2 separate regions of the Homo sapiens genome follow, and region 1 is linked to region 2. Evidence: fine-mapped expression QTL. A gene starts in region 2. The other region holds a variant in brackets. All regions are shown on one strand. Distances are between the middles of the regions.

Region 1 (2,914 bases), 220 kb after region 2:
TCCTTCGGATATATGCTCAGTAGCAAGCCTGCTAGATCAGTACTATTGTTAATTTTTTGAGGAAGCTCCACACTGTTTGCCATAACATCCAGTCATTAGTTTTAAACCTTTACAGTCTGTGAATGTCCAATTAATATTTACAATGGTTACTCAAGAAAGGCACACATTTTAAAGTGGTTCACTTAGGGTGAAAATTACAGTAATGCTTATGATTACTGGAAGCCTAAATTTACACACACACACACACACACACACACACCTAATTTTCCAACTTTTCAGCCATTGATGTTTACCTCATTAGTCATGTTTCTTGTCTTTAAAATTTTTATATATTTATAGTTAAGCTGCTTTAATAAAACTTTACTCATATGAAGAGAAATAAACTTCTAATAAAAATGACAATAGGGGGGCCAGACCTGGTGGCTCATGCCTGTAATCCCAGCACTTTGGGAGGCCAAGGCAGGCGGATCACCTGAGGTCAGGGGTTCGAGACCAGCCTGGCCAACATGGTAAAGCCCCATCCCTACTAAAAATACAAAAATTTGCCTGGTGTGGTGGCACATGCCTGTAATCCCAGCTATTAGGGTAGCTGAGGCAGGTGAATCGCTTGAACCTGGGAGGCAGAGGTTGCAGTGAGCCAAGATCATGCCACTGCACTCCAGCCTGGGCAACAGAGTGAGACTTTGTCTCAAAAAAAAAAAAAAAAAAGAAGAAGAAGATATATCTGTTTTTCTTTTTCCATTTAGATATTCCCAAAAAGAGAAGAGACAAATTTAAAATGTTAATTTCGACTGGGTGCGCTAGCTCATGCCTGTGATTCCAGGACTTTATGAGGCCAAGGTGGGTGGATCACTTGAGGTCAGGAGTTTGAGACCAGCCTGACCGACATAGAGAAACCTGTCTCTACAAAAAATACAAAACTACAAAAAATACAAAAGTTAGCCCGGCGCATTGGCACACGCCTGTAATCCCAGCTACTCTGGAGGCTTAGGCATGAGAATTACTTGAGCCCAGGAGGCGGAGGTTGCAGAGAGCTGAGATCGTGCCACTGCACTCCAGCCTGGGTGACAGAGTGAGACTCTGTCTCAAACGAACAAACAAACAAATGAAAACAAGTAAATTTCACAATAAAATGTGAAAAAAAAAGAGGAATCTAGGAATGTATTGCTTTCCTTTCGATAATCCTCTTGGTTACAGCCCCATTTTCACTCTCACTTCTGAGGTGCCAGCTACTGCCAAGGCTTGCGTCTTTTGGGAATTCTGTAGCTTCTCAATTTTTTGCCACCACCAAGCTTAGGATTTAGTTTTCTTTCCTTTGTTTTTTTTTTTTTGAGACGGAGTCTTGCCCTGTCACCCAGGCTGGAGTGCAGTGGTGCGATCTTGGCTCAGTGCAAGCTCCGCCTCCTGTGTTCACACCATTCTCCTGCCTCAGCCTCCCAAGTAGCTGGGACTACAGGCGCCCGCCACTACGCCCAGCTAATTTTTTGTATTTTTAGTAGAGATGGGGTTTCACCATGTTAGTCCGGATGGTCTTGATCTCCTGACCTCGTGATCTGCCCATCTCAGCCTCCCAAAGTGCTGGGATTACAGGCGTGAGCCACCGCGCCCGGCTGGATTTAGTTTTCTTAATATTAATCTGCTTCACAGTTTCCCAAATTTTACTACTATTGTTTTCTTTCATTCTCTCT[CT/C]TTTTTTTTTCTTTCTTTTTTTAAGAGATGCAGTCTCGCTGTGTCACTCAGGCTGGAGTACAGTGGTGCGATGATCATAGCTCACAGCAGCCTCAAACTCCTAGGCTCAAGTAATCCTCTTGCTGCAGCTTCTGAAACAGCTGGGACTACAGGCATGTGTCACCATACCCAGCTAATTTTTTTTCTTTTTGTAGAGATGAGTATCTTGCTGTATTGCCCAGACTGGTCTCAAACTCCTGGCCTCAAGTGATCTTTGTGCTTTGGCCTCCCAAAGTGCTAGGATTAGAGGTATAAGCCACAGGCCTAGCTTTCTTTCATTCTCTTTATCCTTGTTAGTTTATGCTTTAAAATAATGTTGATGACAACACATCTTTTCTGAATTGTTATTAGAGGTTTAGGGAGAGGGACGGAAATGCTTATGTTTAACCTGGCATCTTTAAACAATAAAATGTGACAGTCCATGTAGAGGTTATAGCACGGCCTCCTGTTCAGTGCCATTGTCCCTCCAAATTCATGTTTTTCTCACATGCAAAATACATTCTTTCCATCTCAACTGCCCCCAAAGTCTTAATTCATTTTAGCATCAACTCTGAAGTCTCATCTGATATCATCTAGAGTATATATGGTAGAGACTCGAGGTACAATTCATCTTGAGGCAAAATTCCTCTCCAGCTGTGAATCTGTGAAACCAGATAAGTTATGTGTTTCCAAAATACAATGGTGGGACAGGCATAGGATATACATTCCCATTCCAAAAGGAAGAAACTGGAAGAAAGAAAGGGGCGATGGGTCCCAAGTAAGTCCAAAACCTAACAGAGCAAATACCATGAGATTTTAAGGCTCAAAAATAATACTTGGCCTGGTGTGGTGCCTCATGCCTGTAATCCTGATACTTTGGGAAGCTGAGGCAGGAAGATCCCTTGAGGCCAGGAGTCTGAGCCCAGCCAGGGCAACATAGTGAGACCCCCATCTCTAAAAATAATTTTAAAATTAGCCATGTGTGGACGTGCATACCTGGAGTCACTGCTACTTGGGGGGCTGAGGCAGAGGAGTCACTTGGGGCCAAGAGTTCGATGCTACAGTGGACTATGATCATGCCACTGCACTCCAGCCTGGGCAACAGAGTAAGACCTTGTCTCCTAAAAAAAAAAGAGTAATTGTCTTTGGTTCGATGCTGTGCCCAGCTGACCCACTGGGGTACAGCTCAGCAAGCAGTATGCCCCTT
Region 2 (2,914 bases):
AAGCGGTTGGGGGTGGAGAGTCAGCTTTGCTTTTTTGGAGAATGAGGGTGTGATCGAACACATAGAAAGAGAAAGAGAGAAGTAGGCAGGGGCTGGATGTAGCTCAGAGATAGGTTATGGAAAGCAGTTTGGATTTTAGATTTTAAGAGGAAGGGGAAATAACTGAATTTGGCTCTTATTTTTAATTTTTTTCCATTAAAAAAATACATTATAGAAAAAATATATAGAGACGGGATCATGCTGTGTTGACCAGGCTGGTCTCCAACTCCTGGCCTCAAGCGATCCTCCCATCTCGGCCCCCCAAAGTGCTGGGATTACCGGTTTGAGCCACGCGCCTGGCCTCAATTTGTCTTTTAAAGGATGATTTTGACTACAAGAGAACTACTTGGATCAGGGTTGGGGGTGGGAGATGAGGAGGTGTGATTTCAGAGGCCAAGTACAGAATGAGTGAACAACTGGGAGAGACACATCGGCTGAGATTAGAGAGATGGTCCGGTAGACAAAAGTGTAAGCATGAGACCCGAGGTAGGACAAGCAGAACTTGCAGATCTATTACAGATGTAGGGGTGAGGAGTGCCAGGGTGACTCTTGAGTGTCTGGCTTGAGCAGCTAGGCAAATGGTGTGGATCAAAAAAGCAGCAGGTTGCAGGGAGGACGGCAGTGTTAATCGAAAGTCATGTTCTGTAAGTTTTAGGTTCGATACGACTCTGAGCGGAGATGTCAATTAGTCAACCGAATGTCAGGTGTGAAGATCGGCACAGAGGGCAGAACCAGAGACATTCATTAGAGAGCAAACAGGTAGAGGGCACTTAACCTATAGGAAGGATGCACTCATATAGAGCGAGAAAAGGGCCAGAAGGAGCCCTAATGAGTAGAGAAAGACAGGCTGAAAAGGACATCGGCGAGGTCAGAGAAATACCTTTAGGGTGTAATTACGCCTACGCGAGTGGGTAAAATGAGGGCATAATGACGCGGACTGGATTGCAATAAACAGCTTTTATTCTTTTATCAGAGACACGATCTAGCTTTTTAGCCCAGGCCGGAGTGCGGTGGCATCCTCACAGCTCGCTGCAGCTTCACTGGGCTCAGGCGATCCTCTCGAGTAGCTGGGGTACAGGCGCAGGCCACCGTGACAGGCTTTTTTTTTTTTTTTTTTTTTTTTTTTTTGAAGAGAGGGTCTCACTATGTTACCCAGGCTAGTCTCGCAGTCTGGCACTCCTGGCCTCAAGCGATCCTCCTGCCTCGGCCTCTCGGCCTCCCAAAGTGCTGGCCTGTGCCCAGTCAATGGCTGTTCCAAATTAGGGTCTACCCATCTCTATGCAGGGCTAAAGTCCGCGGGCGGCCCCGCACCGCTACCAAAAGTACAGTCCTGTGCGCCCAGACGCGACGCAAACAAGAGTCGCAAGCTTCCGGGTCCCCGCCCCACCCCGGCTCCGCCCCTCCCCCAACCCTGCCAGGCTCTCCAATCGCATGTGGAATTATCGCTCTACCCAGGCGGTGGTGTCGATCTACGTTCCAATTGGGGCCGTACCATGGCGGAGAAGACTCAAAAGAGGTGGGTTTGCTGCTTGAGAAAAGCCTTTTCTCAGCTTTCCGTAGGGGTGGAACCTGTTCCTGGTCGCCAATGGTGGCGACTCAGAAGGTGTCTCATCCTGGGCATTCGGGCCGAAGGTACCTGAAGCCCAGACCTGGCGTCCACTGAGGGAGGGGGCGACGGAGTGGGGGCGGGGAGGGTTGAGAAGGGACGCGGAGTCGCTGCCTGGAAGGTTTTTGTTCCTGTCTGGCCGTCCCTCCCCACATGCGCCTGCGCAGAGGGGGTCTCCCGGCCGGGAGGGCGGGGGGGGCTGTGAGGGGAGGGTGACGTCAGCTTTTTCCTGGGGAAGGCCGGCTCCCTTCTCCCGCATAATCGGCGGTGCTTGGCGCCGCTGTACCCCACGGCTTGGCGCTGGATTCTCTGCTGCATGTTGCGAGACCCCCACGCCAGTGCTGGCCGCACCCCAGGCCCTTCCTGTCTCTGGAGGGTGGGGTGTGTAAAGGGATTTACGGTCGCTGTCAAAAGGGGGGCCGCGCCTGGACTTGAACTGTGACACACACACACACACATTATATAGATGCAAGGAGTACTTGCGCAGATTTGTTGCATAGATAAATTGCGTAATGGTGAAGTTGGCTTCTAGTGTACTTACCACCCAAATAGTGAACATTGTATCAGATGGGTAATTTTTCAGCCCTCAAACCCCTCCTACCCTCGCTGCTTTTAGAGTCCCCAGTGTCTGTTATTTCCCTCTTTATGTTTATGTGTACTCATTTTAGCTCCCACTTAAAAGTGAGAACATGTGCATTTGATTTTATTTCTGAGTTATCGCGTAAGGTAATGGCCTCCAGTTCCATCCATGTTGTTGCAAAAGACATGTTTCCTTTCTTTTTGATGGCTCTGTAGTATTCCATCGTATAGATACACCACATTTCCTTTATCCAGTCATCCGTTGATGAACACTTAGGTTGATTCCATACTTTGCTATTGTGAATAGTACAGTGATAGTCATAGGAGTGCAGTTGTCTTTTTAATACAATGGTTTCCTTTGAGTAGATCCTGGGTCGAATGGTAGTTCCGTTTGGATTGGTAGCTCTATATGGATTGCTGGGTCCAATGGTACTTGTGTTTAGTCCTTTGAGAAATCACCATACTATTTTCAATAGATGAACTAATTTATATTCCCACCAATAGTGTATAAGCTTAGAACTGTGACATTTTTTGCCAGGCGTGGAGTGGACAAGCTCCTTTGTAAACATGTGGGGACAGGAAGTTTGGCTTCTTCTCCGGTAGTCTTCATTGCTGGGGGCTGTTGGTGGCTGTTGGTGGCTGGGATGAGACAAGTGCATAAGTAAAGCCATTTCGAACAGCAGCAGTGTT

Direction of the effects. Positions count from the first base shown, and alleles are read on the strand shown. Sizes are in standard deviations (SD) of each study's normalised expression.
For the expression in prefrontal cortex of the gene that starts at base 1,518 in region 2, allele CT in region 1 goes with a lower level than allele C (large effect, 0.82 SD a copy in ROSMAP).

Evidence for each region. PIP is the estimated chance that this variant, and not a neighbour inherited with it, causes the effect.
Region 1: its variant is fine-mapped to the expression of DCTN6 in prefrontal cortex (ROSMAP, PIP 0.95).

Annotation. Positions count from the first base shown.
Region 1 is chr8:30,370,695-30,373,608 of GRCh38, forward strand. No RefSeq gene overlaps it. Among named protein-coding and RNA genes, the nearest start is that of RBPMS, 12 kb to the right of the region's middle. The variant CT/C (reference allele first, on the strand shown) is at 1,689.
Region 2 is chr8:30,154,852-30,157,765 of GRCh38, forward strand. It overlaps DCTN6 (dynactin subunit 6), which reads left to right and starts at 1,518. Exons shown (of 7, transcript NM_006571.4): 1 at 1,518-1,555. The coding sequence starts at 1,533. DCTN6-DT (DCTN6 divergent transcript) reads right to left here and starts at 1,809. Exons shown (of 1, transcript NR_186490.1): 1 at 978-1,809. LOC124901927 (a long non-coding RNA gene) reads right to left here. Exons shown (of 2, transcript XR_007060880.1): 2 at 2,321-2,914. RefSeq lists enhancers at 609-818, 643-1,625, 1,569-1,718 and a silencer at 1,779-1,888.